Regions from separate parts of the Homo sapiens genome. Here region 2 is linked to region 1. The links come from fine-mapping of genetic effects on gene expression. A gene starts in region 1. The other region holds a variant in brackets. All regions are shown on one strand. Distances are between the middles of the regions.

Region 1 (8,816 bases):
GCCAGGCCCCAGGGACCAGTTAAGATAAGGAAGAGATGCTTACTAGAAATAAGATAAGTATTAGATTGGGAGCTGATGAAGTGAAGAACCTGGATTGAGTAGAAGTGGCAGAATAGAGAATCAAAAAAGGGGAGTTTTTAGGTTGAATTGTGTCCCCTAATAGATAACTTGAAGTTCTAACCCCTGGTACCTGTGAATACAACCTTATTTGGACTTTGCTGATGTCATCAAGTTAAAATGGGATCTACTGAATTAAGGTGGGCCCTGATCCAATAACTGGTCCCCTTATAAGAAAAGGGGAATTTGGAAATAGACACACAGGAAAGAAGGCCACCCACATGAGGAGAGGTGAAGGCTAGAGAGATGCAGCGGCAAGCCAGAGAGCATCAAGAATTGCTAGCTACCACCAGAAGCTGGGAGAGGAGCATGAAACAGATTTTCCCTCTAGCCCCTTAAGAAGGAACCAACCCTGCCAACAACACATTGGTTTCTGACTTGTGGTTTCCAGAACTGTGAGAGGATATATTTCTGCTGTTTTGATCCACCAAGTTTGTGGTACTTTGTTTCAGCAGTCCTGGGAAACGAATCAAGTAAGAGCAGAGAACAGGTAAATGACAGTTGTTCTGTGAAACCCTCTGCTGAGACAAGTTCAAGCTGCCAGAAAAAAGGCCTTTGCCTGGCATGCCCTTGAGCTTGCTGCAATGAACACCCTTATGAGGATGACTGGGTCTTCGTGGTCCAGATCTTTCACTGGGGTTGTCTTAGAGCACCCAGTGAAAAGCAAAACCCACTTCTTTAAAGAAAACGTATGAATCATGAAAAAAAAAAGAAAAAAAAATGTGCCCAACTTCTCCTCTCCCTGCCAAATACAGTTATTGCTAATGAGGAAGCAATTTCACAACAGTTTTTCTATTTTCCATACATCATTTGTCCTTTGGTTAGGTCCACAGTACATGACCTGCCAATTTTCTTCTGCAGATTCTGAAGGAAACAGACAGCACAACAACAACAGCCTCTCTCAGTCCTCACCCAAATCTTTCTTCTGAAATTGGATGCTGATGGCCACCAAACACGTTTTTAAAAGACCAGTGCAGTTTGAAGAACAGGTCAGAAAGTCTGCCTTCGCTGAAAACTCATTCGCTGGGAGTTGCAATGAGCAGATAGGACACACCCAGAATTCGCCTGAAGGGGAGGGCTGCAGCCAGGGCGGAGACCAGATGTGTGGGCACAAAGGTAGGGACGCTGCCATGTGAGACTAAAATAAATTCCACGTAGTGTGCAGTGCAGGTGGTCTGGGAGGGGCGTAAAGCTGTCTTCCTGGAATTAACAGCTTTTTACCTTTTTAGTCTCCTTTCCCAGGCTGCAGGAGCTATTTTGCAAAGATGACTCCTTCATTCTCCCTTTCAAAGGCTTCCTTCAAGGTCTCCTGGGATGGGTCTTGCTGATGTTCCCTAACACTGAAGTGTCAAGAGAACCTATTGATTATAACATGTAATTAATCTCCTCAGTTGAATTACTTAGCTGCTTCAGCACAATGTTTGGATTCAACCAGAGCTGAATTTTTGCCAGACTGGAAATAGTTCTAATTTTTGATGGATTCTGATTCATTCGCAGTTAACAATGTTGACCACTGATACATGATGAAAGGAAATTAAGAAATGGTTATGCAGGTAGGATTTGTCACTTTAGATGAAATTTACAATTAATAATAGATACTTTATTTTACCCATCCCAAATTCAATGGATTCACTAACAGCTTTGGAAGACAAAAGAAAACATGACCACATTAAGTGCACTTATCATTAAAGAGATGGGTCCTGACTTAACATACACAAAAATATGAAAAACTGTGTTACTGGATGCTGGGAAATAGGGTAGGGAGCATTTGTTTAATCCTCAGAAACAAAAACAAAAACAAAAAAACCCAAAGAAGTCCATGAGGCCCCTGCTTTACAGACATGGGACCTGAGGCTCAGAGAGATGAATGTTTTCAAGGTCACTCAGATGGTAGGTGGTAGAGTTGAAAGTGACCCTAGATTTACCTGAGTAGTTAATGAATTGGGAGGGCTGAAGCCAAGGGGCTAGTTGGCCATGATCTGGTTTCAGTGATCAGCAGAGACCTGATAGCCCTATGTGGAACCTCCAAGACTCAAATGCTGGTGGCGGATTTTCCACGTTCCCTTTCTGCACTGAGCAGGCTACCACAGAGAACTTCCAGATTCTTTGTCATTCCTTAGAACCACAGGAAATCTACTGATTTTAGACATACACACCAACTAGCAGCTCTTTGTAACTTTCTGCAAAATCAACACAGCCTGTATCTGCTAATGCCAATCCAGAACCACAGGTTATGTATTTATATTACTGTGTCTTATAGCAGGGGTGTCCAATCTTTCAGCTTCTCTGGGCCACACTGGAAGAAGAAGAATTGTCTTGGGCCACACATAAAATACACTAACACTAACAGTAGCTGATGGGCTAAAAAACAAATGCATAATATTTTCAGAAAGTTTATGAATTTGTCTTGGGCTGCATTCAAAGCTGTCCTCGGCCATATGCAGCCCGCAGGCCGAGGGTTGGACAGGCTTGTCCTATGGTCTTGAGTAGTCCTAAATTGGGGCTACTAATTTAAAAATAACAAATCCCTCAACCCCATTTAATAACCCAGATGAACTCAGAGATGTTGCATTGGAATGACGTTCCCCTCAATGGAACCTGGAGGCGACACTATGATGCACTTACAAATAATGTCCAACTGCGTTTCAAAGACTAACTGTGGGTAATGACATCCTTCCCTGTGAAACACACCCTAATATTCTGTGAGTCTGGGGTCTTCCATAAGACTGCTTTCTCTTTCATAATCTCTGAGATTCTTAGATTATTATAATGAAAGGATGAGAAGCAGTGATTGAAAGAGGAGAATGAACTCCATCAACTGCCCTCACTCTTATCTGCAGTCTCAGCTTTTCAGAGAAAGCATACTTAGAACTTCTATTTTGCTTTCTAAAATCAAACCAAGGTGGCTGGTAAATACATTTCAGCTCTTCCTGGAGCATTTCTAGCCACCTAAAAAAACGGACTGTGCTTTTTAACAAAAGGACCAAAAAACTGTTGATGTTCTAAGGCACTGATTCTTAACTTTGGCTGCACAGTAGAGATACTTAGGAACTCTAAAAGCTACAAATGCCAAGCCCTGTATCCAGAGATTTTGGTTTCATTGATCTGGGGTTCAGTCTGGGCAGCAGGAGTTTTGAAAGCTCCCCCTCTGATTTGAGTCCATTGCGAAGGCTAACAACCTCTGCCTTTAGGCAGGAGGTCAGCCAGGTCCTTGACCTCCATTGGCCACCAGTGGGAGCAAAGTGGCCATTTTTTGCAAGTTTAATTTGATTTTATTATTACTCTATTTACCAATCTGTTGTTGTTGTTGTTGTTGTTGTTTTGAAACAGAGTCTTACTCCGTTGCCCAGGCTGGAGTACAATGGTGCGATCTTTGCTCACTGCAACATCCACCTCATGGGCTCAAGCGATTCTCCTGCCTCAGCCTCCTGAGTAGCTGGGACTACAGGTGCGTACCACCACACCTGGCTAATTTTTGTATTTTTAGTAGAGACGAGGTTTTGCCGTGTTGACCGGGCTGGTCTCTACCTACTGACCTCAAGTGATCCGCCCACGTCGGCTTCCCAAAGTGCTGGGATTATAGGCGTGAGCCACCGGGCCCCGGCTATTTACCACATTCTTACAGTACAATTATACTGGCTATCACAGCAGCTTACAAATATCAAGTAGGAATTGGATAATTTCAACTGCAATCCCATATGTGTCATTGGCCCAGTTGACCGAATTCCATATGGGCCACCTACAGTCATTTTGTAAAGCATTGTAAAATTTTAGTGCAGAATTAATTTACCTTCAAGATCCATAATGAACATTAGGTGGGTATAAAAATTAACTTCAGGCCGGGCGCGGTGGCTCATGCCTGTAATCCCAGCACTTTGGGAGGCTGAGACAGGCGGATCACCTGAGGTCAGGAGTTCGAGACCAGCCTGGCCAACATGGAGAAACCCCGTCTCTACTAAAAATACAAAAATTAGCCAGGCGTGGTGGCACACACCTGTAGTCCCAGCTACTTGGGAGGTTGAGGCAGGAGAATCGCTTGAACCCGGGAGGCGGAGGTTGCAGTGAGCTGAGATCACGCCACTGCACTCCAACCTGGGTGGCAGACCCATTAACTTCAAAAGACTTAAGTGTACTTTAAATTGTTGTCAAAATTAACTCCAAGGACTTTGGGGAAAAATATATAGTACATTTTGGATGAGACTCTCTTGAAATCAGACTTTTCAATTGCTCTTAAACCTCATTGAATTTTCTAGAAAATGTATCATTTAAAAAGAAGTGTAAAGTTCATTTTTAGTCTGACAGTTCTTGACAATAACAAAAACGGACCACCTGCTATGTCTTGACAGTGTAAAATAATAATTACAGAAATTGTAGCATGTTATTAGGTTGGTGGAAAAGTAATCACAGTTTTTTGTACCAACCTAATTATTTAAAACTCTGACCAAGAAAAGTAGCAATTAATGTCGAACTTTAAGCCTCCAACAGTAGGTTAAGCTCAGGCTTCACTAGGATCTAGCAATTGACCTATGTATGTGAAGGAAGAGAGTTTGTCCTTTTCTACAGAAATAGCAAAGGAAGAATATTTCCCTCACCTTCTCTTCCAACCCTGTTGTTCTGGAAGAGGATATTGTCTCTGGTAGGGCCAGTAAGTAATATTTCCAGTTCAATTTCTAACTTGAAATTTTCTTATTTTCCTGTCCAAATTAGTAAGATCATCACTGCATTTGATTTTCAAAATTTACTCTCTAATTCCTTTATACTAACGTGTGCACAAATTAAAGATCATAGCAAGCCGCTTTACCTGCATTTACAGTTGTTTCGATCTTTAATTTTTATCCTTATTTGCCCATTTATTACTTTCTAGGCTCACACCATTTGCCACCAACCCAGATTTCTGGGTCAGAAACCCCATATTCTGTTGGAAAGCTTTGCTAAAGAAATAGAAGTGGCTTACCATGTTTCTGTTGTTCTAATTTTTCATTCCGTAACTTGCAGCAGCGCAGAATGGTACCCTCTATGCAGGAGGTGGCCGAGAAGAGAAACTGGCTAACTTCCTGAAATGGCTCTATTTACCATCAGCAGAACGTAGCGTGTGTTTTACAGAAGTTTACATGAAAAGAAGGGAACTTGTGATTTCTTAGCTGTTGCCAAATCATTAATTGACTGTGCTTTAAAACTTTGAAACTGAAGTTATGGGAAAAAGTCATTTATGAAATGATTTAAATACAACCCAAATCAGACACACACGACGTATTTTTGTTAGTTTTTGTGTATTTGTGTGTACAGGGGAGAAAAAGGGAACATTATTCCATTCACTAAGAAAACTTCAGTGTATTCTTTTTTAAAAAAGTTACCATAAATTTGTACTGAACTTCGGATTTCTCAAACTCGTCTTCCTTGTGTAATTCACAGATGTAGGCGAATAACATGAACATTGCTTCATCTTTGTTCCACAAGTTTCTGAGACAGCACCGGTAGGTATGGGTCTCCCTCCCACTGGGCTGTGGCCGCAAAGCGAGCATCTTTCTCCTGGGCGCCCCATGCCTCCTCCAGCACCTGGCATGTAGTATAAGCTCAATGAGTGTTCATTGTATGAACGAGTGAGTCAATGGCTGAGCATTCGTGAGGCTGGAAAATTTAATCTTCCCGATTTAGTCTGATAAATGGATTCCATTTTATGCTCGGAGAGCAAGGGCCTCAAAAGGTGTAACCAAGAGCAGAGGTCAGCAAACTGCAGCCTTTGAACGAAATCCGGCCCAGAAGTGAAAACATTTTTAGATGAACATTGGCAATGGATTTGCTGATACAGAACACTAACTTTAAATTCCAACCAAGCAGAATGTTAGCACCTCCAAAAATGATTCCATTCTTCTCATTATTAAACCTATACTACAAAAAAACTGCCTTCGATTATTATTATTACATTTTGAGTTTCATCAATTACATAATTGTGGAAATTTTTATTTTACTATATAAGTAGCTACATAATATGCCAAATTTGCTTCTTGGCCTGTAAAACCTAAGATATTTGCCATCTGGCCCTTTACAGAAAAAGTTTGCTGACCCCTGGCCACAAGAATAAAGTTTAGAACGGGATGTGATATGTTTCATCTTGCCTTACACCCCAGGAGTGGGAGAAAACCAAATTGGCAGCAGGGTGGGCAGAGATGACATCCATATATAAATGGACTGTGGAACACCTTGTTATGAAGGAAGGCCTGTCAGCAGTCAAAGAATGGCTTGGGTGGGTATACCTAGATGGACCTCTAAAGATCACACCCTAAGGGAATTCAAGACCTGGTGCATGGTTTGAGAGGTGATTCCTGTGACATCAGAGAGTGCAGCCTGGGCCTTCATGGGCAAACCAAAAACATTTGTGATTGTAAACCCAAAGGCCTCGGCTGGCCGCATCCAAGTCTCTTGGTTTCCCTCCAAACATTTGCTTGGAAATAAAGTAAAGAAAGTAAGTAAGAATGGATCGAGTGCAGTGGCTCACACCTGTAATTCCAGCACTTTGTAGAGGCCGAGGCAGGAGGATCACTTGTGCTCAGGGGTTTGAGACCAACCCGGGCAACATGGCAAAACCTTGTCTCTAAAAAAATACAAAAATTAGCCAGGCATGGTGGTGTGCACCTGTAGTCCCAGTTACTCGGGTGGCTGAGGTGGGAGGATCGCTTGAGCCCAGGAGGTGGAGATTGCAGTGAGCCATGATAGTGCCACTGCACTCTAGCCTGGGTGACAGAATGAGACTTTGTCTAAAAAAACAAACAAACAAACAAACAAAAAACAGCGAAGTAAAAATGACTTCCAGCCGTTGACTGAGCAAGGATCCTTGGAACTGGAGAGTTTGTCAGCTTTCTAGAAAAGCGAGACTCACATACCCTGGCTTCTAGGCCACCAAGTGTCAGCCAATTGTAGACCAGTCAATTGGCCTTGTAAAGCATGCTTGTATACGTATATATATATATGTGTGTGTGTGTGTGTGTGTGTGTGTGTGTGTATCATCATGTATATATGATATATATATATTTTTTATGTACATATGCATGTTTATATGTATATATACACACATACAGTCTAGTATCTATGTCAAGCAAACTCATAAAAATGAGTTACTTACTTATACCAAATGAGCCTTCAGTTTTCTCCACACAACCAGTACCATAAAAGATGAAAATGAAAATGGAATTGACACCAGGGCAGGAAGGTTACTGAGAGGAAGAAGCTCCATCTGCTTGTAAAGTAGCCAGATGATTGGCTTCTGCCCAAGCCCAGAAACTGGTCCTTGGTGGCCAGGTCTGCTCTCCCCACCCTGCACTGTGAGGCCAAAAGCTCCTGGGCATCTCCTAGACCAATCTTTCCTTACTCTTCCCCTTGCCATCCATGCTGACACAGATCTTGATTCCAAAATGGAGAAGACCTGTCATGAACCGCTTCTGCCAGGCAAGCCTGCCAGACAACGTGCACTTCCCAGACACACAAATCACCAGCAGACAAGCCTCTCTGAGCCTTAGTTTTCTCATCTGTCAAATTGGGATAAGAATAGTAGTATCTTTCTCAGATGTTGGCTTTGAGGATTAAATTGTTCATATCGTGGAACTCTTAGAAAAGTAGCTGGCACAAAGTGAGCGTTCAACTAGCAGAGCTGGAATTATTATTACTACGCTTGTTGTTACAGACTTCACACATTCCTGGGCTGTTGCCAACAGTAGGCCTGAAGAACCACTCTTGGGGCCTTCCCCAGCCCTGGACACAGCCCTTTCCTCTCGAGTGGATGACCAGACAATTCATAAGGCAGCAAATGGCTTCCCCATACTGGGGCTGCCGCGAAGTACCACATATGGAAATAACGTGCAACCCTGGAAAAAGCTCAAGGTCTGGGAAAACACCAAGTGCCTGGAATCAGTTGTTTGTTGTGAAATCAATGCTAAATATATACAAAGCTAAAGTGAAAGGACTTACGTGGAAGAAACTTTTAAGTCAACGATTCAGATGAAGAAATGCACAAGAGGCTTCCTTTACACAAATCTCTTGTGATCCTGGTTTTAAGTGGGGGTGCAGAGCTCCTGAGAGGACAGCTACTGTGCGTCCATGTTTAGGAGCCACGCTGCAGCTTCCCTTGGCCCCTTTAAGCGGCTGCCCTTCCCTGGCCAGGGAAGACACGGGTGAGATAGGCCACAGGTGTTTCCTGAAACTGTCTCCTCCTGCCTCCACTTGACCTTAGCTTTGCAAATCCTGGGCGCTTTGTGGTCACCTCTGGGATGCAACTTGTTGGTGTCACGCCCACTTTGCCAGGTCCTGCCGGCAGATATGGGCTGCTTGTTTTCTTTGTCCCCAAGTCCCCACGTGCCTCCTGATGGTCTGTGGCCCAGATGGGATGGAGTCCTCTGCACCAACACCTACTTAAGGCGCTACCCACCCACCACTCCTGTTCTCTCTGCTTGTTACTATAATCCCCATTTTCAGAGGAGGAAACAGGCTCATAAAGGCTCAGTCATTTACCCAAATTCAGCAGCAAAGCTTGGATCTGAACGGAAAGCTCTGTCGTACTTGCCACTTTCTCTGCTGGATGACATTTTGGTGGCTCCGTGTTACATTCACCAGACTGTACAAGTTTTGAGCCCAAGGGCTGTTGTATCCATCCAGCCTGGTCTTACACATGGATGTTGGTGAAAATGGATGGGGACGAATGGATGGAT
Region 2 (8,816 bases), 43 kb before region 1:
TAACACGATGTTTCAGACTCTTTACTATCAACCTGACTGAGGTTTAATTGACATAAAATTCATCTTGAATGTACCTCGATGAGTGCTAGACAACCATGTACGCGCATGTAACCACCCTCCCCATCAAGATTCAGATCACCAACACCCCGGAAAGTGGCCCACTGTGTGAACCTTCTTTGTCACCCTAAGGCAAAATGTGGTCCTCACCCCCCAATACCCCCTTGGAAGGTCTTCTGCAGTGACATTTGTCCCAATTGCTGCCACCTGTGTGTTCTCTTTTTATTTTTATTTATTTAGAGATGGAGTCTCTCTCTGTCGCCCAGGCTGGAGTACAGTGGCGCAATCCCGGCTCACTACAACCCCTCCCTCCTGGGTTCAAGCGATTCTCTTGCCTCAGCCTCCCCAGTAGCTGGGACTACAGGACCATACTCGGCTAATTTTTGTATTTGTAGTAGCGACAGGGTTTCACCATGTTGGCCATGCCAGTCTTGAACTCCTGATCTCTGGTGATCCACTCGCCTCAGCCTCCCAAAGTGCTGGGATTACAGGTGTGAGCCACCGTGTCTAGCCCCACTTGTGTGTTCTCTGTCTTCTTTCCCCATCAGGTTGGATCTCCTCAGTGGTCGGCCTGGGTCCTATTTGTCTCTGTATCTCCAGGACATAGCAACGACGGCCCTCTGTAAATAATACTCGTTGAGTGGTGAGAACCATATGGGGCAGCAGGATTTGACGCCTGAATCATGAAAACTGGGGAGATTGTTATTAATCTGGAGAGCTCCTCTTTTTTTTTTTTTTTTTTTTTTTAAGACGGGGTCTTGCTCTGTTGCTCAGGCTGGAGTGCAGTGGTGTGATCATAGCTCACTGTAGCCTCGACCTCCTAGGCTCAAGCAATCTTCCCACCTCAGCCTCCCGAGTAGCTGGGATCACAGGCACACACCACCATGCCTGTCTAATTTTTTAAATTTTTTCTAGAGACACGGTCTCACTATGTTGCCCAGGCTAGACTTGAACTCTTGGGCTCAAGCAATTCTCCCACTTTGGCCTCCCAAAATACTGGGATTACAGGCGTGAGCCACGGCTCTGGGCCAAGACAGCTCCTCTTCGAAAACAAGTGCTGATGTGGGCGTCAGCTTCCCCTCCCTCATGAACATGCTCAACTCAGGTTTCCGCTATTCTGTTAGAGACCCTGTTTATTACTAGCCCATATGAGAGGAAGAGCCTTTGAACCCTTCTGTCTAGGCTTCTAGGGTGGTCATAAGGCTTGACCCAACCTCGTGACTGTGGTGTCAGTGGATGGTACCTTCATTCTTCATTCGGAGAGAAAGAATACATAACAATGATAGTAATATGAGAATTACATGGATGTTTCTGATCTTAAATGTCATTCAAGAATCACTGTAGAAAATCTGGAGATTATGATAATATCTGACATTTATGGCCTGCTTTACTACATGCTGAAGGCTAGTCTAAGAATTTCTCATTTAAACTTCAGAACAAGGTAATGCAGTATGATTGAGGTTAAGTGCTAGAATGGTTCCCTCACATTATAGAAGAGAACCAGGTTACCTGACTTGCCCAAAGTCACATTGTTGGGAAGTGGGAGCTAGGATTTGAATCCAGGGTAGGGGCCAAGGGAAAACCTCCCCTTCGCCCTCTGAAGGTTTACTGAAAAATCAACTCAAAAAAGGCAGATTAATAGACTGGGCACACTGGGTATAATCTGAGCACTTTGGGAGGCTGAGGCTGAGGCTGGAGGATCGCTTGAGGCCAGAGGATCACATGGGTCCAGGAGTTTGAGACTAGCCTGGGCAACATAACGAGATCACCGTCTCTACGAAAACATTTTTTTAAATACTAGGTGTGGTGGCACACGCCTAATTTTTAGTTGTGGTGGTACATGCCTAAAACATTTTTTAAAAAATTCAGGAGTGGTGGTACGTGCCTGTCATCTCAGCTACTCAGGAGGCTGAAGTGGGAGGGTTGCTTGAGCCCAGGAGTTCAAGGTTACAGTGAGCTATGATTGTGCCACTGCACTCCAGCCTAAACAACAGAGTTAAGACCCTGTCTAAAAAAAAAAAAGCCTCGCCACTGAACTCCAGTCTAAGTGACAGAGTGAGACTCTGGCTCTAAAACAAAATGAGATGAAGAACCACATATGCAACAGCCCAGTAGTCATTTCTTCTTACATATCCCACAGACCCCCTATACTCAGTATGTCCAACACACCGATAACTAATCCTCTTGACTCTGCTGAGAGAGAGCATTAAAATATATATAATAGGCCGGGCATGGTGGCTCACGCCTGTAATCCCAGCACTTTGGGAGGCCAAGGCAGGCGGATCACAAGGTCAGGAGTTTGAGACCAGCCTGGCCAACATGGTGAAACCCTGTCTCTACTAAAAATACAAAAATTAGCCAGGCTTGGTGGCGTGCACCTGTAATCCCAGCTACTCGGGAGGCTGAGGCAGGAGAATTGCTTGAACCTGGGAGGCGGAGGTTGCAGTGAGCTGAGATCACACCACTGCACTCCAGCCTGGGCAACAGAGCAAGACTCCGTCTCAAAAAAAATTTATAATAATAATAAATTAAAAGGCAGATTAATTGGAGAAAAAGCATACAAATTTATTGTGCACATGGAGGAGAACCATAGAGTGATTACCAATCCCCGCAGTGGGGTACAGAAGCCTTGAGGTTACAGAAAGACTGGAGGCTTGGATCTTGGCAAAGAGATTATGGCATGGGGAGAAGAGGAGGCCTGGCTGGCAAAGGCGTTCTTGTTACATAGGAGAAATCTCAGAGGTAGCCGCTCTCAGACAGAATAGATAGTAAATGTTTCTTTCAGACCTTTAAAGGTATCAGACTCTCAGTTTTTCCTAGATATGGACAAGAGAGAGCCTCAGAGAAAGCCTGGCTGTATCAACGTAGTTTTTCTCTGCAGATGCAAATCTTCGCCACATGAGACAGTTTTGTAGGGCTGCTTCTGTTTGCGGGCCCTGTGAACAGCCATCTCAAAATATGTCAAAGAAATATATTTTGGGGTAAAATATGTTGATTCCTTCACTGGGCTTGAGGTGCCCCACTCCCAAGTTTGAGAGAAGAATCTGGGAGAGGTTTGGGAGATTTTTTTCTTTCTGGTTTTAATTGCACTCTGTTTCCTCCAGAGTTTACAGTTATTATTATTACTGTGTGATCTAATTATGTGCAAGCAACATAATCACAGAACTGATTATGCCTCTGAAAATTGGAAGGGAATATTTTGGGGGAAAAACCCAAATTGAGAAATGACTGAGTTTATAGCCAGTAACAGCTGTTGTTTTTAGGAAGTTAAATCGATTTCTTTTGCTCAAAGAGTTTCTACTTCCTGAAGAGATGTACCCTGTTTTCTATGGGTGCAAAGGCAGTCTGTGTACATCATGATACTCCATACGGGCCTGATGGCGCTCAAACAGAAGGCCAGGCCAGCAGGCATCAGAAGCTTTTCCTTTCCCCCAGTTTCCTGTTTCCAGATCGTATTCCAAAGCTATAATTTCTACTTACCTTGAAGACCTTCAGTTTTCCCTGTTTCCTTCCTCTACTCCCTGAGCCTCTCACTATGAGATCCCTAGAGTGTGGTTGTAA[C/T]GGCCTCCTCTAGCGGGTGCCCAGGCCCCAGTCTGCTCTGCTCCACACTTCCCCCTAGGGGCAGTTCTCTGCCTGCGTCCATGCTACCCCCTGCTTCTAAACCTTCCAGCGATCCTCAACACCAGTCGCCTATAAAGTACAAGGGCCTTGCACTTTATAGTTGGCCTTCAGGGAGGGCACAGTTTGCAGCCAGTACTGCCTACCAGCACACTTCTGTTTCCTTCAGCTCACCAAAGCTTTAGCCATGAGAGTTTATCATTCCTTCCTCATCTTCCTGTCCACGCCTGTATTTCCAGATCATTCACACTGTGCCCTCTGCCAGGAATGCCTTAGTCTCATTTCCAACCTCACGGCCACCTTAGGAGACAGCTCTTGTGGCATAGATGTTAAGATGGAAGGTTCTGGAGTCAGGCTGCAGGATTTGTATACTAATTCTGCCCAGGGTGTGCAGCCTGTGCAGTCACATAAGAGCCACACTAAGGAGGGCTCCGGGCTTGGTTTTTTGCTCTGCTACCACCATCTTGAAATTCTTAATCATTTTTGAACCAGGGCACTGGACTTGCAAACTATGTAGCCAATTCTGCTTCTGACACTGACAAACTGTCTAACTATAAAATCAGGATGACAGTGAAGGCTTAGAACAGGGTCAGGCACTTTGGAAGCGGTCAGTGAATGGGAGCTATCATTATCCCCATCTTACACACCAGGAAAGAGGCTCAGTGAGTTGCTCCACACCCCACAGCTGTCACGTGACAGAAACGGTGACGTGGCTTACTTTCACTTCCCACGCCGATGTGAACTTTCCTACGTAGCCCTGACTCTTTGTAGCACGTGGTCATGTCTGCTCTCAGTGTATTATGTGGCAGTATTTAAAGGCTGCTCATACTGCCTTTGTTCCTTTAGAAGTAAGCAAAGCACAGAGTTAGTATTTCTCACACTTGAAAAATGAGAACAGTAAATCAGTGACTGCCTTAAACATCCAAATCCAATTATGACCTTTGCTGAGACAAAGATGCTGGCATCAGAGTCTGGAGTCTGGGGCTCTGTGAACCCACACACCATGCCTGTCCCTCTTCAGTCTGGAGCCAGAATCCTCCCTTTCCCACAAAAGACAAAAGATGCTAACAGATGCACGCTGGTTTCCGGAGGAAAAGGCCACTTCTGTGAGCCAGTGGGAAGACGGGAAGTCTTTCCTGCAGGAAGGGGGTAGGTAGCTCAGGATACTAGCAGGAGATGCTTTTAATTGTTCTGCAACAGTGACAGCTCAGCATCGTGATTCCTGGTGGTGCTGGGGTGCAGTACTATTGTTAATGTCAGCTCCCATTCATTCATTCCTCTATTTTCACACTCACACATTCTGAATGCAGTTATTATGCTGTGGTCTTGGGGAAGGAGCTGTGCTAGTGGAAAGTGATGCAAAGTGAAAAGAATATTCTTGCCACTTGGGGATTAGGGAGAAAACCAGCAAGTATGCAAAGATTCACAACCATCTGGTGAGTGCCTAAAGCCAGATATTATCAGAACTCGGGTAAAACCAGAGGCCTAGAAAAGGCAGGAAAAACATGGCTCCCTCAAGAGGTGAAATTTGAGCTGAGATTTGAGGGATAAGGAGATCTGATTGCCAGTCCCGTTGAATTCATTTCCTATCCCTGTAGTAGCAAAGGACCACAGATCCAGCAGCTTAAACAACACAAATTGATCATCTTAAAGTTCTGGAGGTCAGAAGTCTCACTGGGCCAAAATCAACGTACCTGGTAGGCTACATCTTTTCATGGAGGTTCTGGGGGAGAAGCTGCTTCCCTGCCTTTCCAGCTTCTAGAGGCCTTCTAGATTCCTTGCTTCCTCCATCTTCAAAGCTGGCAATGTCACATCTCTCTGACCAGTCCTGCATAGTCACATTTCCCCCTGACTCTCCTCTTGAGCTGCCCTCCTTCACTTTTAAGGGCCCTTGTCACTACACTAGGCCCACCCGGATAATCTAGGATGATCTCCCTACTTGGAGGTCACCTGACTAGCAATATTAAATCCGTCTGCAGTCAAAATTCCCTTTTGCCATGTAACCAAATATTCATAGGTTCCAGGGATTAGGATGCAGACATGTTTTGGGGCTGCTACTCTGCCTGCTATGCTCATTTTGTAGATTACTTGCTGTGTGCCCCTGAGCAATTTTGTCCAGTCTCTCTGAGCCTGAGGCTTCTTGTCTGTAAAAAGTAGAAATAAGACCCGCCCTGCCCATCTCACCTGAGAATGTAATGAGATAGTGTTTGTAAAAATGCTTTAATAATGGCAAAGGTCTCTGTCAGCATAGATGTTCCTATGAGGGGGAAGGGCAGGGGATAACATCCTGAGTGTCTGCTGCATTCTAGGTAGGTACTAGGAGATGGTTTATCCCAGATGGCGCATACCTCTTCCCAATTCCACATTCAGAGCTGTCACACTGGTGTCTTGAGATCTGCCATGGTGACAGTATTTACACCATGGAAATACTCCAAATCAGGGCTGCCCCCACCACCTTGAGAACCAGTTGTTAAACATTTACCAGCACATGACAGGTCTATTCCATTTATTTAAGAAAAACCACCTGAAGGGGCTTTTATTCCTTTATAGTATAGATAGGCAAGTCAAGCTCACAGCCAGTGATAAACCCACCTAAGATCTCACAGCTGGTAAGAGTGACTGAGTGTTGAGGCTGGCTTGTCATACTCCAAAGTTGATTTTTCCACTGTACCCTCAAAACCATTCTTCACTCCTCCAGTTCTGCCTACCCTTGACAGGTTTGATTACTCTAACTAACCAAGAGAATTGTGGGACTTAATAGCAGGTTCAAAACTGTAACTGTCATGCCTAAGTTGGTGGATGGCCACGTTTTGGCTGTGGAAGTGCAGTTTCCTGGGGGCTCACCTGGGTCACTGCCAACTTGACCTAAATCAAGTTTAAAGCCTTCCACCCTAGAGGTTAGGCAGCATATGAAAATACTGAATTCTCCACTGTCAACTGCAGAGGGTTAAAAGGGATTTGATGTAAACAAATTGCCAGGTCACACAAAAGTCAAAGTGCCACATGGCTTCCTCTTAGACAACCTGGAAGTGTTTGAAGGTCAGCAAACACAAGTGCTTCATTCAGAAGTGAACAAAGCAAATAGCAGGCTAGCATTATTGACCTTTGGGAGCAGAATTAATGGTGGCAATTGGAGATTTAAAACAAAACCAAACTGACTTGACTTCATGTTCTATTTTAATCAGGTTCCTATTTCTCTGTGTACTAACTTTGTTTTATTAAGTTTTGGGTTTTATTTTAAATGTGCTCAAAGCATAAGACATCTAAAGTAGTTAGTGGGCGTGAGGAATTAATTGACCCAGGAGCAAAGACTGCACATCTGACAATGGTTCTCAGTTTGGCTGTACATGGGAACCACCTGGGGACCTTTCAAAACGCCAGCTGCCCTGGTTGCATGCAGACCAGTTAATCCAAATCTCGGGGGCAGGGGGTAGGGGGGTCCCTGGCATTGGTCCTTGCGGATTGAAGCTCCCAGGTGATTCCCATGTGCAGCCAAGGTCGAGAACCACTACTCTTGTAGTTTATTTCCCTTATTCCCACTTAGCGTTTCTATTTTTTGAGTTTCTGTTGTGTATAGTCTGTTTGGGAAAAGCACTGTATCCAGTTACATGAGAGGTCCTGACACCACAGAAGGTGAAAAGGCCTCAGGGCGTTTCCTAGTGGGTGTTTCAGAGAATAAAGAATCCCCACACCTAGAAAACCAGTTCTCCCACACTCACCAGGAGTGACATCACCAGGAGCCAATAAAAAATTTCCACTTGAGTTTACCAGTTAAGCCCTCAATTGATTGAACCTAGAAATTGCTAGACAAACTGTGAAGGATTAGGTTCCTCCAAACTGCTCCTTTTATGAGGCCCATTCTCTGATTTACACTAGATCTAGCCTCTTACCAGTTCTCTCAGTTTCAATGCATTTGTTCTGTGGCTGTTGTAGTATTGGCAGGAGGAGGATTTGAGTCCGCAGGCAGATAAGAAGCCAAGTTTCAGAGGAAAAACAATGGAGATTCCACACCCTGAGCTCCTTGAGTCTAAAACCAAAGCCTAAAGGCTGTAGGCAAATTGTTGCTGCCCCCTATTGGCAGTGATTGGTGTTGACGCATGAGAAAGAGTCCAAGCCCCCTGGTGGTAAATTCCAGCTAGGCCCATCCCTTGCTGTCGCTCCACATTCCACTAACAATGCTGTAGGCACAAAAGAATTCCCCCTTAAATATATCAGATGGGAGTTGTGAAAGGAAAATAAATCTTGGGACCCCAAAATCACTAAGCTAAAGGGAAGTCAAGCTGGGAACTGCGTCAAGCAAACCTGCCTCCCATTTTATTCCTAAATAAGACAGCTACAAAGATAAAAAAAAAAAAAAGACATACCTCCCTCACAATTTGCCCACAAGGAAATTCCTCGTGGACAAAGGACAGACAGAGCTCAAAGTCATCCCTCTGAGGCTCATGTGAGACAAATGCATATCTGATTGCTTCCTCTGCCCTGTCGTTTCACCAAGGCAGACCAGGCATAAGTGACTATTCCTCCACCCTCCTCTCCCATGTGAATTGTATATTCAGTGAAAGGCTAATCAGAGACCCAATAGAATGCAACAAATGTCTCTTATCTACCTGTGATCTGGAAGCCCCCTCCCCTGATTCGAGTTGTCCTGCCTGTCTGGACGGAACCAATGTACATCTTACACATGTTGATTGATGTCTCACGTCTCCCTAAAATGTGTAGAACCAAGCTGTGCTCCGACCACCTTGGGCCCATGTAGCCAGGACCTCTTGAGGCTGTGTCATGGGTGCATCCTTAACCTTGGCAAAATAAACTTTCTAAATTGACTGAGGCCTGTCTCAGATATTTTGGATTCACAAATTGGTAACCATGAAGGGATTCTGAGTGGAGGTACCCCTGACCTTTGACAAATCTACTGTTGGTGCTTGGTACCAGCTTGAGCTATCTTTATGGCTCAAGCCAGTAGGACAATTGGCTGAGGCCTGGGAGACACCCCCACCCCCGACCAAGAGAATCCCTGATCTCTCCAAATTTGGTTGAGATCTAAAGTTTATTTTGCTGTATAACTCCTTTTCTGGAGTTTCACTTGCTCCCAAAAAGGAAGGCAAGTTTTCCTGCTTCCATGATGAAGAGTGCAGGTAACT

Which allele goes with the higher level. Alleles are on the strand shown, and positions count from the first base shown. SD is a standard deviation of normalised expression in the study named.
In carriers of allele T in region 2, the expression in breast of the gene that starts at base 5,161 in region 1 tends to be higher than with C alone (small effect, 0.13 SD a copy in GTEx).

Evidence for each region.
Region 2: its variant is fine-mapped to the expression of TLR8 in breast (GTEx, PIP 0.96).

Annotation. Positions count from the first base shown.
Region 1 is chrX:12,902,965-12,911,780 of GRCh38, reverse strand. TLR8 (toll like receptor 8) reads right to left here and starts at 5,161. Exons shown (of 2, transcript NM_138636.5): 1 at 5,072-5,161. The coding sequence starts at 5,074. TLR8-AS1 (TLR8 antisense RNA 1) reads left to right here. Exons shown (of 5, transcript NR_030727.1): 3 at 3,448-3,565; 4 at 5,530-5,591; 5 at 7,796-8,816.
Region 2 is chrX:12,945,908-12,954,723 of GRCh38, reverse strand. No RefSeq gene overlaps it. Among named protein-coding and RNA genes, the nearest start is that of TLR8-AS1, 7.0 kb to the right of the region's middle. RefSeq lists enhancers at 3,360-3,589, 3,520-3,814, 4,220-4,514, 7,512-7,641 and cis regulatory regions at 3,443-3,872, 4,142-4,554, 7,516-7,959. The variant C/T (reference allele first, on the strand shown) is at 3,619.